2 separate regions of the Homo sapiens genome follow, and region 1 is linked to region 2. Evidence: fine-mapped expression QTL. A gene starts in region 2. The other region holds a variant in brackets. All regions are shown on one strand. Distances are between the middles of the regions. Region 1 overlaps GBF1 (golgi brefeldin A resistant guanine nucleotide exchange factor 1). Region 2 holds the start of FBXL15 (F-box and leucine rich repeat protein 15).

Region 1 (11,515 bases), 170 kb after region 2:
TTCAAGTTAAAGAAAAGAATAAAGGTTGTTGGAAGCATAGTGTTGGTTTAGAACCACAGTTGCAATGTCAGCGTAAAGGCTGCATCCAGACAAGGTGAAGTGGCTCACACCTGCAATCCCAGCACTTTGGGAATCCAAGGCAGGAGAATCAGTTCAGCCCAGGAGTTGAGACCAGCCTGGGCAAACAGTGAGACCCAGTCTCTACCAAAAAAACAAAACTAAAAAATTAGCCAGGCATGGTGGCATACACCTGTAGTTCTAGTTACTGGGGAGGCTGAGGCGGGAGGATCACTTGAGCTCAGGAGTTCGAGGCTGCAGTGAGCTATGACCCCACAACTGCACTCCAGCCTGGGTCACAGAGCAAGACACTATCTCTAAAAATATATAAATATAAATATAAACAAATGACTGCATCCAATCTGCCCAGTCAGCTCCAGAAAACTGGACAGTGACAGTGACAAGACCTTTGAAAAGTTCTGAAAACTCATATTAACTGACAGCAAGAAAGCATTAATATGATATGTAAATATAAAATAAAAGGTCTGTGCTAATATACCCAAACTTATAACCATAATTATTCCTAGAGAAGGTGCTGTGAAAACAGGGTGCAATCAGAGGATACTTGAGCCTTATCTGTAATCGTTTTGTCTTTTGGGGTTTTTTTGAGACAAGGTCTCACTCTGTCACCCAGGTTGGAGTCCTGTGGCACTGTCATGCCTCACTGCAGACTTGAACTCTTGGGCTCAAGCAATCCTCCTGCCTTAGCCTCCTGAGTAGCAGGGACTTCAGGCGCACACCACCAACCCAACTAATTTTTGTACTTTTTGTAGAGATGGGGTCTCACTTTGTTGCCCAGGCTGGATCTGTAATATTTTAACTTTTTACAAGAAGGTCGGGCACTGTGGCTCATGCCTGTAATCCCAGCACTTCAGGAGTGTCAAGGCAGGTAGATAACCTGAGCTCGAGACCAACCTGGCCAACATGGTGAAACCCATCTCCACTCAAAATACAAAAATTGGGCAGGTGTGGTGGAGGGCGCCTGTAATCCCAGCTACTCGAGTGGCTGAGGCAGAAGAATCGCTGGAACCTGGGAGGCAGAGGTTAAAGTGAGCCGAGATCATGCCACTGTACTCCATCCAGCCTGGGCAACAGAGCCAGACTCCATCCCAAAAAAAAAAAAATTTTTTTTTTTTACAAAGAGAATGTATTACTGTACTATCAATATAATTAAACATTAATAATGATAAGAGGTATATAATTTATGTCCTTGAGGCATTTATACAGTTTAGTGGAATAGATACAAAAACAGACACAGCCAGAGATAATAGAGAAAGAAATGTACCTAGCAAGTAGCTCAATTTGCATATTTTGCATAAGATGAGGCCCCCCAAGAAAGTGAAAAGCATGAAAACCACCATGATAAAGGAAAAAGAAACTGGTACAAATTTTGTCCAGGGGCCATGCGCAGTGGCTCACACCTGTAATCCCTAACACTTTGGAAGGCTGAGGTGGGCAGATCATTTGAGCCCAGGAGTTCGAGACCAGCCTTGGCAACATGGCGAACCCTGTCTCTATAAAAAATACAAAAATTAGCCAGGTGTGGTGGTGCACACCTGTAGTCCCAGTTGCCAGGGAGGCTGCGGTGGGAGGATTGCTTGAGGCCGGTAGATTGAGGCTGCGGTGAACCGCGTTCGTGCCACTGCACTCAAGCCTGGGCAACAGAGCGAGACTCTGTCTTAAAATAATAATAATAATGTGTCCATGCCCATGACAGCTCCCCAGTCCACAAGGGAATCCAACACAAGATTTATATTAATGACAATTTAAAAAACTAGGTTAATCTCAGAAGACTATCTGCTTTCCAAATGCTCTAGGAACACAACAACGTTCTCTTCTGAGAAGTGTCAATGATATGAATGTACAACCACGCTCTCTTCTGAGGAGGAGGAGAACTTAGAAATAGAAGAAAGATATATTCAAAAATGATTTAAAGTATCAGAAGAGAAAAGATTAAATCTTTCCTGGTATTTCCCTTTCCTTAAATTATGTAGGCAAGATGAATATGCTCTAGGTCTCTGGAAGGACTTGTAAGAAAATGCTAAGAGGTTACGGCCTCCAGGGAAAGAAACTGGATGACTATGGAACTGAGTGGTGGAGGAGTGAAAGGAAGACTAACTTTTCTCTGTATATTCTTTTTTACCTTTTGAATTTTGTGTCACAAACATATATTACCTATTAACTACTTTTAAATTTTAATCAGCTGATTGACTAAAAATGAATAAGCCCTTTAGAAAAGAAGTAACCACTTTCTAAGACAGCAAAGGTCTAAGCAAAAAATCATTGTAAAAAAGAAACATCTAGGGCTGGGCGCAGTGGTTCACGCCTATAATCCCAGCACTCTGGGAGGCTGAGGTGGGCAGATCACCTGAGGTTGGGAGTTCAAGACCAGCCTGGCCAACATGGTGAAACGCCACCTCAACTAAAAATACAAAAATTAGCCAGGTGTGGTGACACACACCTGTAATCCCAGCTGCTTGGGAGGCTGAGGCAGGAGAATCACTTGAACCCAGGAGGTGGAGGTTACAGTGAGCCGAGATCGCGCCACTGCATTCCAACCTGGGCAACAGAGTGAGACTCTGTCTCAAAAAAAAAGAAACATCTAGGGAATGAAGAGGAATTATTTTCAAGTACTATGCAGAGCTGCCTAATCTCCTTCTAGGTCTCTGAGTATGTCCCCTCACTCAGGGAATCTCCAAACAGTTGTGCCCTTCAGCTTCAGATGGGAAACTGATGAACCACTTGCTGCCTGGTAGCCAATGGCCAAGAAATCCCTTGTCACAAGGTCATAAAGGCCTGCAGAAACCTCATAAAAGTATAGTAGAAACGAACTTAAGATTTATCTTGTGTCAGAAATAACAAGAGAAATACATTCATTATGTACCCACACAAATGAAAAATTAATAGAAAAAAATAAATAAGAGAGGGAACAACTAAATAAATACCAACTAACACCCTTAGCCAGATAAGCCACTGGCCCAGAGACTCTGAGTAACATGTACCCTTGAAACCACTGTCCATTTAAAGCTGGGTCTAGAACATTCCCCTAGTGCTTTGTGGCATCCCAGTTACCTCAACAGGATCCAAAGAGGAGTCACTGTATCACTTGGCAACTCTGTCTATATCCAACAAAAGCAGGAGAAAAAGAAACAATAAATTGTATTCTTATTTAATGGAATACCAAAAATATATCTCAGGTTATTTAAATATGAAAAGCAAAACTTGAAATCTCTTAGAAGCTAATATATGAGAATATTTTCTTTTTGATTTTTTTTTAGAGATAGGGTCTTGCCATGTTGCCCAGGCTGGACTCAAACTCCTAGGCTCAAGCAATCCTTCCACAACAGCCTCTTGGGTAGCTGGGACAACAGGTGTGTGCCACAGCACCTGGCTACAGGAGAGTATTTTTATAAACTCAGCATAAGGGAGAAGTACCTAAACAAGAAACAAAAAGCAAAACCTCTTTAAAAAATTGGTGAATTCAACCATGTTAAAATTAAAAATGCCTGTTCAAAAGACAACATAAAAAAGAGGGAAAAGATAAGGCACAAACCAGAAGAAAATATTTGAGGCACATATAACTAATATAAAGGAGTAATATCCAGAGTATACAATAACTGCTACAAAACTATAAGAACTAGACATATAACCCCTCCCCAAAATTGGCAACAGAGATGAATAGGTGTTTCACAGAATAGGAAACATAAACAGCAAATAAATATATGAAAAGATTATTAGCTTCATTAATAATCAGGAAAATTACAAAATAAGATTATAATGATATACCACTTTACATTCCTGAAATAGCAAAACACTTTAAATCTGATAATACTTAAAAGGCCAGGTGCTCACGCCTATAATCCAGCATTTTAGGAGGCCGATGCAGGAGGATCACTTGAGCCAAGGAGTTTGAGAACAGCCTGGGCATCATAGCAAAACTCCATCTCTACAAAAAATTTAAAAATTAGTAGGGCATGGTGGCATGTGCCTGTAGTCCCAGCTACTTGAGAGGCTGAAGTGGGAGGATCACTTGAGCCTAGGAGGTCAAGGCTGCAGTGAGCCACGATCACACCACTGTACTCCAGCCTGGACAACAGAGTAAGACCCTGTCTCAAAAAAAAAATTGTTTTTAAGTTGGTAAAAAATGCAGACCAAGTGGCTGGTATGTATCTAAATTAATATGAATTTGAATAACAATTTGGCATTATCTTACAAAGCTAAAGCACTTCATATCCTATATTTCAGCAATTCCACTTCTAGGACTATACCCCAGAGAAGCTCACACAAAAAAATTGAGAATAGTGGCAAGCGGCAGGGAGTGTGGGGGAACTAACAGGGAAGGGCATACATACATGCAGCCTCAGTTTTGGTGATGTTATTTTTCAAGCTGGGTGGCAGCCATTGGTGCCCCATATAAGCTACACATATTCTTTGTCTAAAATAGCCCCTCGGCTGGGGGCAGTGGCTCATGCTTGTAATCCCAGCACTTTGGGAGGCCAAAGCAGGCAGATCAACTGAGGTCAGGAGTTTGAGACCAGCCTGGCCAGCATGGTGAAACCCCCACTCTACTAAAAATACAAAAATTAGCTGGGCATGATGGCAGGGGCCTGTAATCCCAGCTACTCAGGAGGCTGAGGCAGGAGGATTGCTTGAACCCAGGAGGTGGAGGTTGCAGTAAGCCAAGATTGCATCACTGGTCTCCAGCCTGGGCAGCAGAGCAAGACACCGGCTCAAAAAATAATAATAATAAAATAAAATAAAAGACCCTAAAAAGTTAAAAAGTTCCTTTTTTTTTTTTGAAACAGGGTCTCATTCTGTCGCCCAGGCTGGAGTGCAGTGGTACAATCTTGACTCACTGCAATATCTGCTTCCCAGGCTCAAGCGATCCTCCCACCTCAGCCTCCCAAGTAGCTGGAACTACAGGCATGAGTCACCATGCCTGGCTAATTTTTTTGTATTTTTTGTAGAGACAACATTTTGCCATGTTGCCCAGGCTGGTCTCAAACTCCAGAGCTCAAAGCAATCTGCCTGCCTTGGCCTCCCAAAATGCTGGGATTATAGGTGTGGGCCACCACGCCACATCATTCCTACTTTTTAAAGTCATGGTCTTTGCTGCCTCTTTGCCTTTGCATATGAAGCTCCCTTTCTATTCTGAATGTTTTTTCTCACTCTTGTCCACCTGATAAACCCTTACTCATTCCATCCAAAAGTCAATGAGGGAGTCAGAATATCACAGTGGTTCTAAGAACAATCTTAAAACCACTTATTTATTTATTTATTTATTTTTCCACTTTTTTTTTTTTTTTGAGACAGCGTTTCCCCCTTGTTGCCCAGGCTGGAGTGCAATGGCACAATCTCGGCTCACCGTAACCTCTGCCTCCCAGGTTTAAGCGATTCTCCTGCCTCAACCTCCCAGCAGCTGGGATTACATTCATGCGCCACCATGCCGGGCCAATTTTGTATTTTTAGTAGAGATGAGGTTTCTCCGTGTTGGTCAGGCTGGTCTCAAACTCCCGGCCTCAGGTGATCTGCCCACCTCGGCCTCCCAAAGTGCTGGGATTACAGGTGTGAGCCACTGCGCCCAGCCCTTTTTTCCACTTTTTTAGCAGAGTATTTTTAGTAGAGTTGGGGTTTCACCATGTTGGCCAGGCTGGTCTCAAACTCCTGGTCTCAAACTCCTGACCTCAAGTGATCTGCCTGCCTCGGCCTCTCAAAGTGCTGGGATTATAGGCATGAACTACCATGCCCGGCCACCCACAGCACTTTGTAGTTATCTCTAAACATATCTTGGCTGGGGACAGTGGCTGATGTCTGTGATCCCAGCACTTTGGGAGGCCAAGGAGGGAGCATCAGTTGAGCCTAGAAGTTCAAGACCAGCTTAGGCAACATGGCGAGACCCTGTCTCTACAAAACATAAAGAAAAATTGGCCAGGTGTGGTGGCGCACACCTGTTGTCCCAGCTACTTGGGAGGCTAAGGCAGGAGGATCACTTGAGCCCAGGAGTTCCAGGTTGCCTTGCGGTATGATCGTGCCACTGTACTCCAGCCTGGGTGACAGAGTGAGACTCTGCCTCAAATAAATAAA[T/C]GAAAATAAAAATAAACACATCTTATACTAATTTATAATTATTTATTTAGTGTATCACCACCATGGGACTATCAGGCTCTATCTCAGGGGGAAAGACCATGATTTATTTACCCTTTTATCTCCAAAGCCTGACACATAGTAAGAAAAATGATCAATAAATACTAGATGAACAAATGAAATAACATCAAGACTGACTCTTCAAGAGTGGTACAGCACACATCCACCTCATGAGAAAAATGACTTCATAGAAGACAATAACTCTGAGCCACACTGGCAAACCTTTTTTTGATAATATATATTTGCTTCTCTACCAGAAGTTACAAACCTTCCATACAGGTAAAAAGAACCCACATTTACCTACCAGCCATATCATAATGCTTCTTTTTTCACGTCTATCTTCCTGACATCTCCTTAAGTGTTATTTGCACATTCACATTTTTGTGAAATATATAATTTTTAATGTAACTGTCAATTCTTCATATATGCCTTATTTTCTTTGGCTCTAAATAGCTGTTTTTAGTACACTAGTGTTTAAGTGGTTTTTTTTTTTTTCTTAATCACTTTTATGGGGTTTGGTTTTGTGTTTGTTTGGTTGTTTGTTTTGAGACAGAGTTTCGCTCTTGTCGTCTAGGCTGGAGTGCAGTGGCGCAATCTCGGCTCACTGCAACCTCCACCTCCAGGGTTCAAGTGATTCTCCTGCCTCAGCCTCCCGAGTAGCTGGGATTACAGGCGCCCACAACCACGCCTAGCTAATTTTTATATTTTTAGTAGAGACAGCGTTTCACCATGTTGGCCAGGCTGGCCTTTAACTCCTGACCTCAGGTGATCTGCCTCCCTTGACTTCCCAAAGTGCTGGCATTACAGGCATGAGCTACCACGCCCGGCCTCTTAATCACTTTTAAACATTTCCTTGGCCAGGTGCAGTAGCTCTCATCTTTAATCCCAGCACTTTAGGAGGCCAAAGCAGGAGGAATGGTTGAGCTCAGGAGTCAGAGACCAGCCTAGGCAACATAAATTAAAAAAAAAAAAAAAAAAATTAGTGGGACATAGTGATACATGCCTGTAGTTCCAGCCACTAGGGAGCCTAAGGTAGGAGGATCAGTTGAGCCAAAAAAAATCAAGGCTGCAATGGGCTATGATGACACCACTGGACTCTGGGCAACATAGTAAAATCCTGTGTCTACAAAAAACACAAAAATCAGGCAGGCGTGGTGGCACGCACCTATAGTCCCAGCTACTCAGGAGGCTGAGATGGGAGGATCACTTCAGCCTGAGAGGCAAAGGTTGCAGTGAGCCGAGATCTCACACCACTGCATTCCAGCTTGGGTGGCAGAGAGAGACTCTGTCTCAAAAAAAAATTATTCTTATCCAACTAGCAAATAAATTCTCCAAAGGCAAAAGCGCAATTTTGTTTTTCTTTTTCATGATGCCTTTGTGTCTAATACAGAGCTGGGCAAACCAAGAAAAACTGATGGACTTTCTGAAAAGGTAGATGGTAGTAGGGAGCTAAAGGACCAGCAATAGGCCCTTCTAAGGTTTATGTTCACTCAATACCTTTAAAAGCCAGAGAAGGCTGGGCGCATTGGCTCACACCTATAATCCCAGCACTTTGGGAGGCCGAGGTGGGCGGATCACGAAGTCAAGAGTTCAAGACCAGCCTGGCCAATATGGTGAAACCACATCTCTATTAAAAATACAAAAATTAGCTGGGTGTGGTGGCGTGCACCTGTAGTCCCAGCTACTTGGGAGGCTAAGGCAGGAGAATTGCTTGAACCCAGGAGGCGGAGGTTGCAGTGAGCCAAGATCACACCACTGCACTCCAGCCTGGGCAACAGAGCAAGACTCCATCAGAGAAAAAAAAAAAAAAAGCCAGAGAAACACTAAAGATGCAGAGCTTTTAACATTTCCAGAGCTGGCCTAGGAACACATCATAGTTCTGTGCTTTATTGAGAATAACCAAAGTTACTAAACTAGGAAACAACTTACTGAGCTCAAGAAATTTACTTAAAGGGTGGAAGTAAAAGAAGGTTAAACTGGGAAAAAAGCTGGTGCCCTGACAATGCATCACTGGAAAATCCTCCCAGACCTGATAATCGGGTGACCAGGGTACCTCAGCTCTAGCATGCCATCTCCTCCCCCTGTGGAGATTCTGAGAGTATCTCAAAAACCGTTTACAAGGTAAGCTACTAATATGTCCAAAGCTGTCCCTTCTGCCAGCTTGGAGATGAAAAATAAAACAAACCTTCTCTATCTCACTCCATCTTTTAGCCACTCAGGGCACCCAAGGTACAAAGGTGACAGCTGGCAGAGTAGGACAAAGAAAAAAAGTCTATGTGATTATGTATAGAGAACTGCAGTGATTAAGTCTCATAAGGCCTGCCCATTTTGTTTATTGAGGGTCATCATCCAGTAACCATTGGGCAGAATCCAGTCCACAGACATATTTTCTTTGGCCTGAAAAAGGCTTAAAAATACTTTTAACTAGTTTCCAACAATTAGAAAACACAATGATCTAAATTTCCAGTTTCTCCTGAAAAATAGAAAGAGTGGTCATTCTGTGCCTGCACTCTAAAACAGTAACAATCTGCTGAAAAAGGAGCAGTTGGCTCTTCTAAATAAAGGAATGGGTTGAGCATGGTGGTTCATTCCTAAAATCCCAGCACTTTGGGAGGCAAAAGTGGGAGGACTGCTTGAGTCTAGGAGTTCGAAACCAGCCTGAGCAATACAGTGAGACCTTGTCTCTACAAAATATTAAAAAATTAGCTGGGCATGATGGCGCACATCTGTGTTCCCCGCTACTTGGGAGGCTGAGGTAGGAAGATCACTTGAGCCCAGAGGTCAAGGCTGCAGTGAGCTGTGATCGTTCCTCTGCACTCCAGCCGGGGTGACAGAGCAAGACCCTGTCTCAATAAAAAGAAATTAAAATTAAAGACAAAAAAAAAATAAAGGCATGGGTTGTCCAGTACACAACAGTCCCCACTAATCCTAATACATTCCCATGGGACTCAATTAACTCATTTACATTACCTGCCTGGCATTTAGGCACATGAGCTCGTAACCCCTGGTTTATATGATTGGCAAACCATTACTTTGCCATCATACTTCCATGATCATTTACACTACTATTGCATCTATCGTAATTTCCACTACTACTAGAACAAATAATCACTTCTATGATCACTTCTATTATTATTGGGGTTCCAAATCAGCACACTGCTTTATTATATTTTCATTTAGTTAAACAACTGCAGTTGAACATACTGAAATATTAAAAAAAAAAAAGAGTAACAGCTAAACAGCAGCTCATTATATTTACATAGCTCTTCTAGCCTGAGGATAAAATGTCAACAAAAACATACACCCTTAAATTCAATCCCACCATTAACCCAACAACAGAATCATTCTAATCAGTCACACAGAGCCACAGGGATATAGTGTGTGATCAATCAATGAGAAGTGTCATACAAAGATTAGGGTGATCCTTGCAGTGAGTACTCTATAAATAGAGTCTCCTCAAAAGCAAGAGCTGTGTCTTCTTCCTCTTTAGCTGCCCACAGCAGCCAGTCTAAGTACCCTATCAATGAGGTTATTATGTGAAAGTGGCAGTCATCCTGACTTCTGGAAAAGAGGGAAATAAAATAGTAGTGTAACTTTGAGAACTCTGAGCTGAAACTGGGATTGGTGCCCAGCTACTGAGGAGATATGTCTATAGCCTGAGTTCCCACTGTGCCAATGAGCATCACTGTCAAGACTGGAACATACTGTCTACAAACACCATTAAAAAGAAGCTCAAATACAAGCTTGGGACTTGTATTTGAAGGATGAATTTTCTGATTTGTGGGTAGGAGTGGGAATTATTCCTATCTAGAAAATTATTCCTATCTAGAAATGACATTTAGGATTAAAAAAAAGAAAGAGAGAGAAAGAGAAAACGTTTTGATGCCTCTATAGTCACCCTTAGGCTCAACTGAGGATGACTGGATCCTGGATTGATCACACTGCCTACCCAGAGACTAGATTGCCTGTTATGCAAAGCATATCAACTCAACAGGGCAATGGCCCAAGTGAGCAAGGCAGGATCATCAAACCTGGGTACCTCCTGAGGTATGTCATTTCATTTGCTGCGTTCAACTACTTTCTTGGGGGCGGGGAGAGGGGAGGAATTCTACAACTTAGATCAGCAAGTTAAAATGCAAATAGTTTCCTGTACCATTTCCATCTAAATCAACACAGGTGAAGCATAAATAATGCCATCCCCCTTCTCCCAACACACACAAAAATTTCAATTTCATAAGGACGAAGGTAGGAAGGGAAAAGGGAAATTATGAAATTTCAATTTCATAAGGACAAAGGTAGGAAAAATTGAGTTAGTCATTCCAAGATCCTAAATAGTTTTCTCTTCTGACACTATGAGGTTTTGATCCTCCTTGTTACTACCTCATCATGCAAAAGTGCAAAGTGTTCCTGACTGCCAGGGCCAAAAGCAGGCCACAAGTCCTGATCACATACTGAAACTAATCCCAGATAGAGATAACGTTTATTGAGTGCCCACTACATACCAAAAGGTATTAGGTTGATCCTGCTCTTAACCTACTACATGCTCTAGCTAGGCCACTGCACATACATGCTACTACTTTTAAGAAGTGCATTAACTGAGCAGTCCCAAAGCAGACCTTTCCATTTGTATCCTCCACAGGGCCTAGAGTGCCTTTTATACCTGAATTAATGCACAAGTTTCCACATTGTGCATTAAAAAACACCATCTACACTATTCCTTATTTCTAAAAGCATTCGTTACCCTTGGTGGACTTTTATAGCTTTACAACACAGCAGTTTATCAAAGGTCATCACAGTGCCATAAACTACTCTCTAGGGTTATGTTCCATCATTCACTCTGGGGCTCTGACCCTACAATTGGCTGAAAATCTCTCATGACTCTTTTTGCCCACTAAACATAATAGGCCGACAATACCAAACTTTGCCAGTATTCAAATATCTCTCTCTGCTGTCAGTCAAATATGTCATAATAGAGTGGTTTCCTTATGATTAAGCCTCATCTCCTTAGTGAAGATCTGAGAGAAAAATGTCAACAAAAACATACACTACAAAAGAATGCCTGTGAAAGATTGTATAAAGGAACAAACAGGCCCAGAAGATAAGTATAGTGTTTACATACAGACCCAGACTGGCAGCTGAGCTGTCCTGTAAGAGGGAAGCCTTCTCATAGCCCAGTTCCCTGCGCTGCTATAACCTCAAGCCTTCCACACGTCCCTCTGCTGACAACCTGATTCTAGGGTGCACTAGTTCATCATTATTAATGAAGCAGTTCCTTTGTATTAGTGAGGCAATCACAAAGAAGTAGACGCTGTACAGA
Region 2 (11,515 bases):
CTCATCCCCACCTTGCTTTGGAGCTTCCATTTTATGGGGGCAGACAGACAATAGGCAAATAAGCACAAAATAATGTTAATGGTAGTAAGTGCTATGTAGGGTTAAGGGGCATGGAGAAGACTTACTTGCCATAGGTTAGTCAGGGAAGGGCTCTCTGAGGAGGTAACATTTGAGCGGAGCCCTGAGGAGTGACTGGACGAGCCATGGATGTCCCGCAGGACACAGACAGGAGGAAGCTCAGCAAGTCTGAGGGACAGAAGGTGGGGTGGGAGCAAGCTAGGGAGGAGGGACTGGGGAGGCTGGAGAGCTGGGAGAGGGCCAGATCTGTGGGCTCCTCAGGCCTTGGGGAGGAGGATGGAAAGTGCTGTGCAGATAGTCCTAAGCTGCAGGAAGGGCAGGGACTGGGCGAGAAGAGAGAATCCATGAAAGGCTTCCCCTTCTATCTGGGCCCCAGAGCCAGAAAAGCCCCTTTGTGCAGAGGGTGGGTGGCCTGTTCTGGGTGGGGGAAGGGCTGTGCTTGGTCCTGAGGCTGAGCCTTGAGGGGCTGGACAATGGGGCCCCTTGTGATTGGACTTGGGGGCCAAGGGGCTCCCTCAGTGATGGGATTCCTGAGCCAGGAGGCATGTGACCCCAAGACCTTGTCAGAAGGTCTGGGACTGCTGCTGGGGAATGGGGTAGGGGGGTGGGGAGAGGTAGGGGGGTGGGGAGAGGTGGGGGGGCGCCTCCTCTAGAGGCTGTCTCCAGACACAGTGCCCTGTCCTGTCTCAGGCTGAAGGAGGTGAGATGGGCGGAGGAGGGGGCATGGTTCTACTTGGGGGAACAGAGAGGGCAGCATCAACAGATGGTTCCATAGCAGGCCAGGAGGGAGGAGCCACTGCCCCCAGGCCCAGTGGGTGGGGGCAGGCAGAAGAAGGCCTGGCCATCCTGTCTGTGTCCCTTCAGAAGAGAGAGCATGGAGCTGGAGAGGATCGTCAGTGCAGCCCTCCTTGCCTTTGTCCAGACACACCTCCCGGAGGCCGACCTCAGGTAGAGACGGGTCCCCCGGAAGGCTCATGTCAGTGCTGGAGCTGGAGCTGCCGGGCAGTACTATGGGTACTGGCTGATGGAAAGACAGCAGGAGGGCTGACTAGGATTTGCTGAGAGGCCTTACCTCTCATCCTGTCCCTGTCACCTTTGTTGGGCAGATGGGAAACCATAGCTCTGAGGGAGGGGGTTATACTCTCTGGCCTTAAAGATAAAGGTCTAGCTCATAGACCCCATGAAGCTGAGGGCTGGAGTCTCAGGATAGGTGGGGGTGCTGGAGGCATCCAGTGTCCTACCCAGGGCTTGTCCTGTTCCCTTCCTGCAGTGGCTTGGATGAGGTCATCTTCTCCTATGTGCTTGGGGTCCTGGAGGACCTGGGCCCCTCGGGCCCATCAGAGGAGAACTTCGATATGGAGGCTTTCACTGAGATGATGGAGGCCTATGTGCCTGGCTTCGCCCACATCCCCAGGTAGGTTCTGGCTAGGGCCAGGAGGAGGAAGGGGCTGGCTGATTATGGGGTGGGCAGAGTCATCCTCTCACTGCCCTCATCTTTTCAGGGGCACAATAGGGGACATGATGCAGAAGCTCTCAGGGCAGCTGAGCGATGCCAGGAACAAAGGTGAGTCTGGGGCTCTGGGCACCTGAGTGATTCATAATCCCGCTCCCCCAACTGCCTGCTCCCCAGAGCCTTGGCAAACCTGATGCTCTCTTTGCCTCTTTAAGAGAACCTGCAACCGCAGAGCTCTGGTGTCCAAGGTCAGGTGCCCATCTCCCCAGAGCCCCTGCAGCGGCCCGAAATGCTCAAAGAAGAGACTAGGTCTTCGGCTGCTGCTGCTGCAGACACCCAAGATGAGGTACTGGTAGAGGAGGGTACCGATGAGGGACCCAGGGGGCTGGAAAGGGGGGAGTATTGCCTCTTGTTAACGTTTGTACCCTTAGGCAACTGGCGCTGAGGAGGAGCTTCTGCCAGGGGTGGATGTACTCCTGGAGGTGTTCCCTACCTGTTCGGTGGAGCAGGCCCAGTGGGTGCTGGCCAAAGCTCGGGGGGACTTGGAAGAAGCTGTGCAGATGCTGGTAGAGGGAAAGGAAGAGGGGCCTGCAGCCTGGGAGGGCCCCAACCAGGTATCTTTTCCCAGCACCCTCTACCATGTAGCCTCAGCTACATTCCACCTTGGTGTTAAGCCCCAACCCCTACCTATCCCCATCTGTTTCCCCTGCTGGTGCCCTTGGGCCTAGACCAGGCCTCCCCTCTCTGCAGGACCTGCCCAGACGCCTCAGAGGCCCCCAAAAGGATGAGCTGAAGTCCTTCATCCTGCAGAAGTGAGTCTGGGCTGGGCTGGGCTGGGCCCTAGAGGGTCTTCCCAGGGTGACAGGAGCTTCACCCAGCCAGTTTTTGACAGGTACATGATGGTGGATAGCGCAGAGGATCAGAAGATTCACCGGCCCATGGCTCCCAAGGAGGTGAGAGAGTTAAGGGTTGCTGGGGATGCGGAATGGGTGGGACTGGCTCCTGGCTTCTGCCACTCACTGCTGATTGCCTGACAGGCCCCCAAGAAGCTGATCCGATACATCGACAACCAGGTAGTGAGCACCAAAGGGGAGCGATTCAAAGATGTGCGGAACCCTGAGGCCGAGGAGATGAAGGCCACATACATCAACCTCAAGCCAGCCAGAAAGTACCGCTTCCATTGAGGCACTCGCCGGACTCTGCCCGAGCCTTCTAGGCTCAGATCCCAGAGGGATGCAGGAGCCCTATACCCCTACACAGGGGCCCCCTAACTCCTGTCCCCCTTCTCTACTCCTTTGCTCCATAGTGTTAACCTACTCTCGGAGCTGCCTCCATGGGCACAGTAAAGGTGGCCCAAGGAAGGTGTGAGTGCATTCTGGTCATTTCTGCCTCAGGACTGGGATACTATGCCTGTCTGACCTTTCCTCCCCAACCTCGAATCCCCTATCTTCAACAGGGCAGCACCAGGCAAGAGGGGGTAAAAAGCTCTTTATTTGAAGCTCCAGGGTGGGGCAGGGCACTGGCCTCTCACCAGAGGTCCTCACAGTTCAGTTTCCCTACAGCTCAGTGTCAGGCCCCAGCCACACAGTCCAGCTGTGCTCCGATTGGCAGGCGGGTCAGACCTGCAGGTTGACAAAAGGTGCGAAGCCCGCCATATCCTGCAGCAGCACCAGGGCCTGGTGCAGCGGCGGCTCCACGTCGATGTCCACGCCGCGCTTCCGCAAGCGGCTCAGGCTGGACTCCGCCACATGGTGGCAGTGCCGCACCCGCAGCGAACGCAGCACGGGGCAGTACTCGGCCAATGTCCTGAGGGAGGAGCAGGGTGAGGCTAGGGACATGAGGCCACCACACCTTTGGTGGGGTAAGGTGGAGGCCCGGGCTCACTCAGCCTCGGACTGGCTCCGGCAAAATCCCGGTCTCCCTCCAGCTCGGGGCAGGGGCATACTTTTTCCGTCCCTACACAAGGGAGGCGCCTGGATTGGCTTCCAGTGAGCTGGAGACTTCCTGTCTCATTTAAGGGGGGAACCTGGCCCTCAGCTCCGCCTAGGATTGCAAGATCTCCCCCTTGTTGAAGAAAAGCCAGAAGTCGACTTTCTATGTGAAATCTCCCAATGTGTAAACATTGGTTGAAAAAAGTTTTTAAACTATGGGCTCTCTGGCCTAGGCAATCCTAGAGGCCCTTTCTGTTCAGAATGGGGGTGCTGTGGTTTGCAGGAAGATTCAGAACCCTCAGTCCGGCCTTTTAACAACTACAGCCCGCCCCATACCAGCAGAGGCTAAGTGACTGCCCTCCTCCCGCCCTATCAGGCCCAGGCACCTGACACCGTCGCTTCCGACGCGGAGGCAGCCGGTGAGGTCAAGGTGGTGGAGTTCTGGGCAGTTCCGAGCCAACTCTTGAACCGCGGCGTCCCCCACGTTGGCGTTGACGGCCAGAGAGAGGCTGCGGAGACCAGCGCCGCGCCTCTGCGCCAGGTACACGATGGCCTCGTCCTTGAGCTGGCGGCAGGCGGTGAGATCCAGCTCCTCCAGGGCCGGGCAGCGATCAGCGAGGCCGCGCAGCGCCAGCCCGTCCACCCAGTCACAGTGCGCGAGCGACAGGCGCTGCAGGCGTGGGCAGCCCTCGGCCAAAGCCCCAAGCGCCCGGCGACTCAGTTGCCCGCAGCCGCCCAACGCCACACTCCGCAGCTGCGGATTCCGCGCCAGCACCGGCACCAGGTCCTCGTCTGACAGCCATTCGTGACACGGCGCCAGTGCCAGCTCCTGCAGCCCCTCGGCATCCCGCAGCAGCCGGGCCAATGCGGCCCGCGGGATCTGCGGACCCACCTGCGGGCGGGGAGGCACCCCAACTCTCAGCCCGTCCCGCACTCCTCAGCCGCCTATGCACCCCTGACCTGAGTTCTTTTCTGGCAGCCTCCTGCTCTCCCAGGAGAGACCCCACTTTCCCTCTGAGTCGCTACCGAGTATTTGCCCTTTGGTGCGTGGATCCCTTCCGGGCAGCCCCGGCGGCCCAAGGGGGTCCAGAAGGGCATACTGCGGGGCTGGGGGCTGGGCTAGAGGCGGGGCGGTACCCAGGCAGGGGCGGGGCTTCAGCCCCCGGCTCACCTGCGCGGCATCGAAGCGACGCAGCCCGGCCAGGTGAAGCTGCACCAGCGACCGGAAGGCCCGGCTAACGCGCTGCAGCCGGAGCAGCTGGCGCAGCGGGACCCGGTTCAGGACGTGTGGGAGCAGCACGTCTTCCCAGGGCAGGTCCAGGAACCTGCGAGTAAAGGGGCGTTGGCACTGGCGTCCCGGGGCCACTATTACCTGCGAGTCCGCCTCCGTTATGTTCCTGCGCCCCAGCTCCCAAGAGCGGCCCCCAGACCCAGCCCCGGCTCGGCTCCCCTCCCTCAGGTTCCTCTTCCCTCTCGGCCCCTCCGGTGCTCGGTACCTGACGGCTCCGGGCTCTTGCTCCCCTCCGGACGGCTCCATCGGTGGCTCCATCGGCTGTCTATTGCGCGTGCGCAGTAAGATTTTCTCGCTTTGGCCTTGGAGTGGCCGCACCAAACCCGCCTCCTTGGCCTGTAGAGACAGACCTATTTAATCGAGTGCCGTCTCACCGAGGATCCGATCTGAAAGCTTTTCGGGTGGACCCCGAAACGGAGGCGGAACAGACCGGTGGTGTAACATTAGGCCTCGCCTTCTCGGCTACAGGGCTTGAGGCCTGAAGCTGGAGAATGCGGTGGGCATCAGAGACTGGCTTCTGTCGTCCTCTTGAGCCAGTAGCCGCCTCTGAGCGAAGTGGTGGTGGGAGGAGCAGGCAAGGCCAAACGCGGAGGGGGCGGAGCCAGGACTCTTAGGTTACCGGCCTCTCCTCTGCCCTCTGGTCGCGTTTAGCGACTTTGAAAAACGGGGAGAAACTATCCAGGCTCTTACTGTCTGCCACGTAGCAGGTGTTCAATAAGTAATTGTTGAAATAATGAATGAATTGGCGAGGCTATAATGTTTCCCTCATCAAGTAAACCTGCTCAAACCTCCCATTCCTGATTAATTATGAAGAGCTATCCAGCCTCTTCCACTTCGTAACAGTTTGGGCCGCGTTTCCGCCGGGGGAGAGAGATGTAGGGGGCGCGAAGAAAGACTATATTTCCAACTGGGTCCCTTTCATTTCCTCCAAAGGTCCAGAGTCCTAAGAAGAATGAGAGCTCAGCTCAGCCCGCCAGTGGTAGTGCTTCTCGGCTGGCCTTGGGTTTAGTTGTAGGGTCTGGGGCTGGGTCCGCCCTGGGACAATGACGCCCCAGACCTCTGGACTCAGCTTCAGGGCTGCCTCTCACCGCGTCCCCAGGTCCCAGTCCCAGGATCCGCTTCGGGGAACCCCAGGAGTAGTGCCTTCCCCCATCATCCACGGGATGGGTGTGGGGGGATGTGAAGGACGCGAGAGCCACTGCACCGCTGACGGTCTGGCGCTCCGGTGCAACCGCTTCAGCTGGCTCATCACAACGAAAACCACTTCTCATCTGTTATCTCGTCAAGGCTTCGGGCACCTCTGAAAGGTGGGCAGGTCTATGCTATCAGTCCATTTTAAAGATGGGGAAACCGAGGCCCTGGAGAGGAAGCCCCTTGTCCAGAATCAAGCCAGACGGGAATAGAGAACCCAGACATCTGGTTTTCCCAGAATTCCTTCCACGTTTCCCCACCCCGCAAGGCAGCGAGAAGGGAGAAGCTAGCAGCGGGGAGAGACAAGAAAGGGGTCAAGTTAGGTGAGGGCTTGCTATCTCTTCTTCCTCAGCCTGCTTAGGGAGGGGGTAGCTGGGAGGACAGACCCCTGCAAAGATAGAGCCACGTGAGCGCGCACCACCTCCGGCCGCGCGCCTCGTCCCCCTCCCCTCTTTGTTCGCGCCTCTGCGCCTGCGCAGTGCGACAAATCTGGCGCTGTCCCCTTCAGCACCACGCGGAGTCCGCGCCGCCCCTCCCCGCGGTGAGCCCCGCGCGCCCCCGCCTCGCACGTCCTCGCGCCCCCTGACTGCCCGAACAGACCCCTTCTTCCTTCCGAGGTCACCATCTGCCCGCCCTGGCCCTCCCAAAGAGAGTAGTTGCCATAGTAACTCCAGCGGCTCTTTCTTAAAATAGCAGGGCCCCCTTCTACCCTGGCCAAGGGCACAAGGGTTGCCGGTCCCCCACGTCTTCCGGTCCCTAGTTCATCCCGTCTAACCTCTTACCCCTGGGCAGGCGTGACGACACCTAACTCAGGCAGCAAGGAAGTTCTTCCTGAAGTCTGATTTAACATCCCCCTGCTGCATCCTGGGAGGGTGGTCAGGGTTGGATCTCCTGGGTCCGAGACTCAAAACCCCTGGCGGGTTCAAGACGGTGTTCCCTAGATCTCCTTTCCATAGTTGATGGTCTCCTGGATTTAGGGGGCGGGTCCAGTCTACACCCATACCGTGTGCTTGGCGCGGCCGCGTGCTCGTGGGGGCGGGAGCGCGTGTGGCATGTAACAGGTCATGTGGCAGCCTCCTAGGGACACGCGTGGGGTCTGGAGCGGGACACGCGTGTGCAGCCGGGCCTTACGTGTGGCTCAAGGGGCGGTGGGCGAGAGAGACGTGGACACAAGTGGGGTGGGGCACGTGAGGGTCTGGGGAATAGAACCAGGGGTTCCATGCGCCCTCCTCCTTGTCTGGGGCGGGTCTTAGGTTGGCGGGAGAGCCCAGCGGGGACCTAGCGACAAGGGGGGCTGGCAGCCTCCGGGGCTCTGGGCCCTGGGAGAGGGCGGGGGGTGGGGGGGATTAGCGTTGCCTGAGCGGCGCGTAGGGGGTAGGGGGAGGGACTGAGAGGCGGGCGGGCCTGGAGCAAACGGGAGCCGCGCTGCCTTCACAGCTCAGCTGGGCCCAGCCTCTCCTCTGTCTCTCCTCGGTCTCAGCTCTGGGCGAGCAGCGGTGAGTACTGAGGTGGCATTGAGTTGGGGCTGCACCGGGTATGCGCTGGGACCCCGTTGAGCTTCCGGAACCTGCCTGGCAGGGTTGCTACTCCTGACCTCTGCCCCTCCCCTGCATTGCCACCAGAGGCCCCTTTACCTGGTTATGGTCTCTCCTGGGCGGGATCTGTCTTACCCCTGGGGAGAGAGGGAGAGGAGAGGAATATGGGTGCAGATTCCCCTCAAGAGACCCCAGTAGGTGGGGGGGAGGGGACGGTGTGTGTCCCTGCTTGAGTGTGTACATCTGTATGTGTACATCTGTATGTGTATGTGACTGTGAGCAGTAGGTCTCTGTGAGTGTCTGATACACCTGGACCTCTGTGTGCACTGGAGAATGACAGCTTGTGTATATATTTGGGTACCTCTTTGTGTGTTCCTGTTTGATGATGGTGTGTGTGTAAAACAAGCATGTGCCTTTTCATTACACACATACTTGTTATGACTGTGAGAGTGCATGAGGGTGTGTCTTTGAGCAGTGTGTGTGTGTGTGTGTCTGTGTGTGTGCCAGAGGGTGTTGCCTATGAATGTGTTTAACTGTGTACTGACATATTTGTCCTTATGTATGTGTGTGCGTGTGTGTGTGTGTGTGTGTGTGTGTGTGTTTGTGTGTGTGTAGGTGCCTGTCTGTACCTGTATGAAGAAAAGAATGTCCCTGGCCGGGTGCGGTGGCTCACGCCTGTAATCCCAACACTTTGGGAGGCCAAAGTGGGTGGATCCCCTGAGGTCAGGAGTTTGAAACTAGCCTGGACAACATGGTGAAACTCCATCTCTACTAAAAATACAAAAATTAGCCAGGCATAGTGCTGAGCGCCTGTAATCCAAGCTATTCAGGAGTCTGAGGCAGGAGAATCACTTGAACTTGGGAGGCGGAGGTTGCAGTGAGCTGAGATAGCGCCATTCCACTCCAGCCTGGGCAGCAGGGGCGAAACTCCATCTCAAAAAAAAAAAAAAAAAAGAAGAATGTCCCTTTCCCACTCAGTATGTATATATTGGGGGTAGGAGCCTCTGCTCAGGCTTTTCTCCCCACTTCCATGCTGTGCCTCTCAGCCCTTCAGCATCCCTATATAACACCTGTTCCTCTTCCCTCTCCTTCCAGGAGGCCTGAGTTTCCCTTCCCTGAGTGAGGGGCCTCCATAAGAGAGACTATAGGGGTCACAGGGCTGTATGATGGTGACAGCTGGCTGACACCCCTTTTCCAGAGGGTGGGGTACCAACTTCCCCTATTCTAGAAGTAGCTCCAAAGTGCCATAAGAACTCCGGGCTCACTCAACTTTGAAGTTGCTTCCTCTCTCCTCCCAGGGTGATGCTCAGGGCCTCAGGCAGAAGGAAAGGAGCCAGGGGCCCACTGGGTGTATAAGTCTTTTCTCGTCAGGCCTCTATGGAAGTAGTCCCCAGGCGTGGGATCAATGATCCCATATTACCAGGGTGTGCTAGGTCCCTGATACTCAGAGGCCCTAGCCAACTTTCCCTTCCCTATCTCTGCTGTCCTATCCATCTAACTCCTTGGCAGTTCACCCCATGCTCCCCTTCCTCTCTTACAGGCCTGTCTGAAGAGCATGCAGCCCCCTTACTCCCCGCCTGGCCTCGCCATCCCTGCCCCCCCAGCCTGACCCCCGGCCCCAGCATGGCCCAGGGTGCCATGCGCTTCTGCTCGGAAGGCGACTGTGCCATCTCCCCACCACGATGCCCACGCCGCTGGCTCCCCGAAGGCCCGGTGCCCCAGAGCCCCCCAGCCAGCATGTATGGCAGCACAGGCTCCTTGCTACGGCGAGTGGCAGGTCCAGGTCCTCGAGGCCGGGAACTGGGACGTGTGACAGCACCCTGTACACCTCTGCGTGGCCCCCCCTCACCCCGTGTTGCTCCCTCACCCTGGGCACCCTCTTCACCCACTGGGCAGCCCCCACCCGGGGCCCAGAGCTCTGTGGTCATCTTCCGCTTTGTGGAGAAGGCCAGTGTGAGGCCACTGAATGGGCTACCTGCTCCAGGGGGCTTGAGTCGGAGCTGGGATCTGGGTGGGGTTTCTCCTCCCAGGCCCACCCCAGCCCTTGGGCCTGGCTCCAACCGGAAGTTACGGCTGGAAGCATCCACATCAGACCCACTCCCCGCCAGAGGAGGCTCGGCCCTACCTGGCAGCCGGAACCTTGTACATGGGCCGCCAGCCCCACCCCAGGTTGGAGCAGATGGCCTTTACTCCTCTCTCCCCAATGGGCTGGGGGGCCCCCCTGAGCGCCTGGCCACACTCTTCGGAGGACCTGCTGACACTGGATTCCTGAACCAGGTATGCAACTTCCCCTGGGCTCCCTGGGCCCCCAGTGAAGGGGCAAGGCTCAGCCTCCTGTCAGACATGGGCTTGTCTGCTGTTCACTCTGAATCCTTTAATCTGTTCTAAATCTGCCTCTCTCTTGCCCTCTGTGTTTGTCTCTGTGTCTCTGAACCTCCATCTCTGTCGATGCATGTTTTAATTTCTGTTTCTGTCCCATATTCTTGTGTCCTTGTATGTCTGGCTTTATCTCTGGGTGCCTGTGTCTCCCTCGTTGGCTCAGGGGGATACCTGGTCCTCCCCCCGGGAAGTCTCCTCTCATGCCCAGAGAATCGCTAGAGCCAAATGGGAATTCTTCTATGGCTCCTTGGACCCCCCCAGCTCAGGTAAGGCCTGGGACTGAGGCAGGGAGAACAGGGCAGGGCCTTCCCCACAGCAGCTGAGGCTCAGTAGGGAGCCCTCCTTCAAACTTCCCCCAATCCTTGGAATTGGCTCTTGAGTCAGCCAATGTCTCCCCAGGCCTCAATCTTTCCATCTGCGCTATGATGGGAGGCTGGAGGATAGGACTGGGCAGGGCACCTGGAGGAAGCTGAGTAATGGAGGGAGGGGACAGAAGGATATTGAGGGGCATTCCATGGAGTAGAAAAGAGGCTCAGCAGGGCTCAGTGGCCCCAGTATTTTGGGAGGCCAAGGCAGGAGGACTGCTCAAAGCCAGGAGTCCAAGACCAGCCTGGACAACAAGCAAGTCTCTACCAAAAATTTAATTAGCTGGATGTAGTGGTGTGCACCTATAGTCCTAGCTACTGGGGAGGTTGGGTGGGAGGATCCCTTGAGTCCAGGCAGTCAAGGCTGCAGTGAGTTATGATTGCACCACTGCACTTCAGCCTCAGTGACACAGTGAGACCCTGTCTCAAAATAAATAAATAAATAAATAAAAAAGACAGAAAAAGGCTGGTCTTCCCCCAGCTCCTCAAAGCCATTTGACAAGAACTTGATTTAAAATGAGCTCCACTGGCACCAGGAACAAGCTAAGTATGTAGCAGGAGGAATGGTGGCTAGACAGTGAAAGAACTTCCTGTCAATATGAGGCAGTGGGCAGAGATCCTAGAGCAGAATTAGGACAGGGAGCTGACGTGGATAACCTCCTGACCTGGATGCCTATGCACACTACAGGTGCTAAGCCCCCAGAGCAGGCCCCCCCATCTCCACCTGGGGTGGGCTCAAGGCAGGGCTCTGGGGTGGCTGTGGGGCGAGCAGCCAAGTACTCCGAGACAGACCTGGACACGGTGCCCCTGAGGTGCTACCGCGAGACTGACATCGATGAGGTGCTGGCTGAGCGGGAGGAGGCCGACTCGGCCATCGAAAGTCAGCCCAGCTCTGAGGGCCCACCAGGCACTGCCTACCCACCTGCCCCACGGCCCGGCCCACTCCCTGGCCCTCATCCCAGCCTCGGCAGTGGCAATGAGGATGAGGACGACGATGAGGCAGGTGGGGAAGAAGATGTGGACGACGAGGTGTTTGAGGCCTCTGAAGGGGCCCGGTGAGTGGGGAAGTGGGAGGGGGAAGTGGGAGAGGGAAGCGGCTTGCTCCTTCGCACTGGCCCACAGGCAGAGCCGGGCTCAAAGGGCCTGGGATAGAGATGGGTGTGGGGCTGGCGGGGCAGTGTGTATAGCAGGAGATTCTAGACAGAGGCCTGAGGCTTGGCAGAACACTGGGGATGTGGGGAGCAAAGAGGCCAGGGGTTCTAGCAGAACAGGGGGCAGGGTGAGAGGCCAGA

Evidence for each region.
Region 1: its variant is fine-mapped to the expression of FBXL15 in whole blood (INTERVAL, PIP 0.94).

Annotation. Positions count from the first base shown.
Region 1 is chr10:102,246,187-102,257,701 of GRCh38, reverse strand. All of the region lies in intron 1 of GBF1 (golgi brefeldin A resistant guanine nucleotide exchange factor 1), which reads right to left. Among named protein-coding and RNA genes, the nearest start is that of GBF1, 6.4 kb to the right of the region's middle. The variant T/C (reference allele first, on the strand shown) is at 6,142.
Region 2 is chr10:102,414,626-102,426,140 of GRCh38, reverse strand. FBXL15 (F-box and leucine rich repeat protein 15) reads right to left here and starts at 5,305. Exons shown (of 4, transcript NM_024326.4): 1 at 4,959-5,305; 2 at 4,634-4,787; 3 at 3,849-4,354; 4 at 3,005-3,337. The coding sequence starts at 5,011. The coding sequence ends at 3,148. PSD (pleckstrin and Sec7 domain containing) reads left to right here and starts at 7,356. Exons shown (of 17, transcript NM_002779.5): 1 at 7,356-7,440; 2 at 9,020-9,756; 3 at 10,022-10,124; 4 at 10,912-11,278. The coding sequence starts at 9,103. It overlaps CUEDC2 (CUE domain containing 2), which reads left to right. Exons shown (of 9, transcript NM_024040.3): 2 at 943-1,026; 3 at 1,349-1,492; 4 at 1,581-1,642; 5 at 1,747-1,877; 6 at 1,963-2,145; 7 at 2,282-2,343; 8 at 2,424-2,484; 9 at 2,569-2,892. The coding sequence starts at 953. The coding sequence ends at 2,715. RefSeq lists enhancers at 2,998-3,057, 3,148-3,197, 3,388-3,447, 3,678-4,007, 4,918-5,387 and a silencer at 4,508-4,677.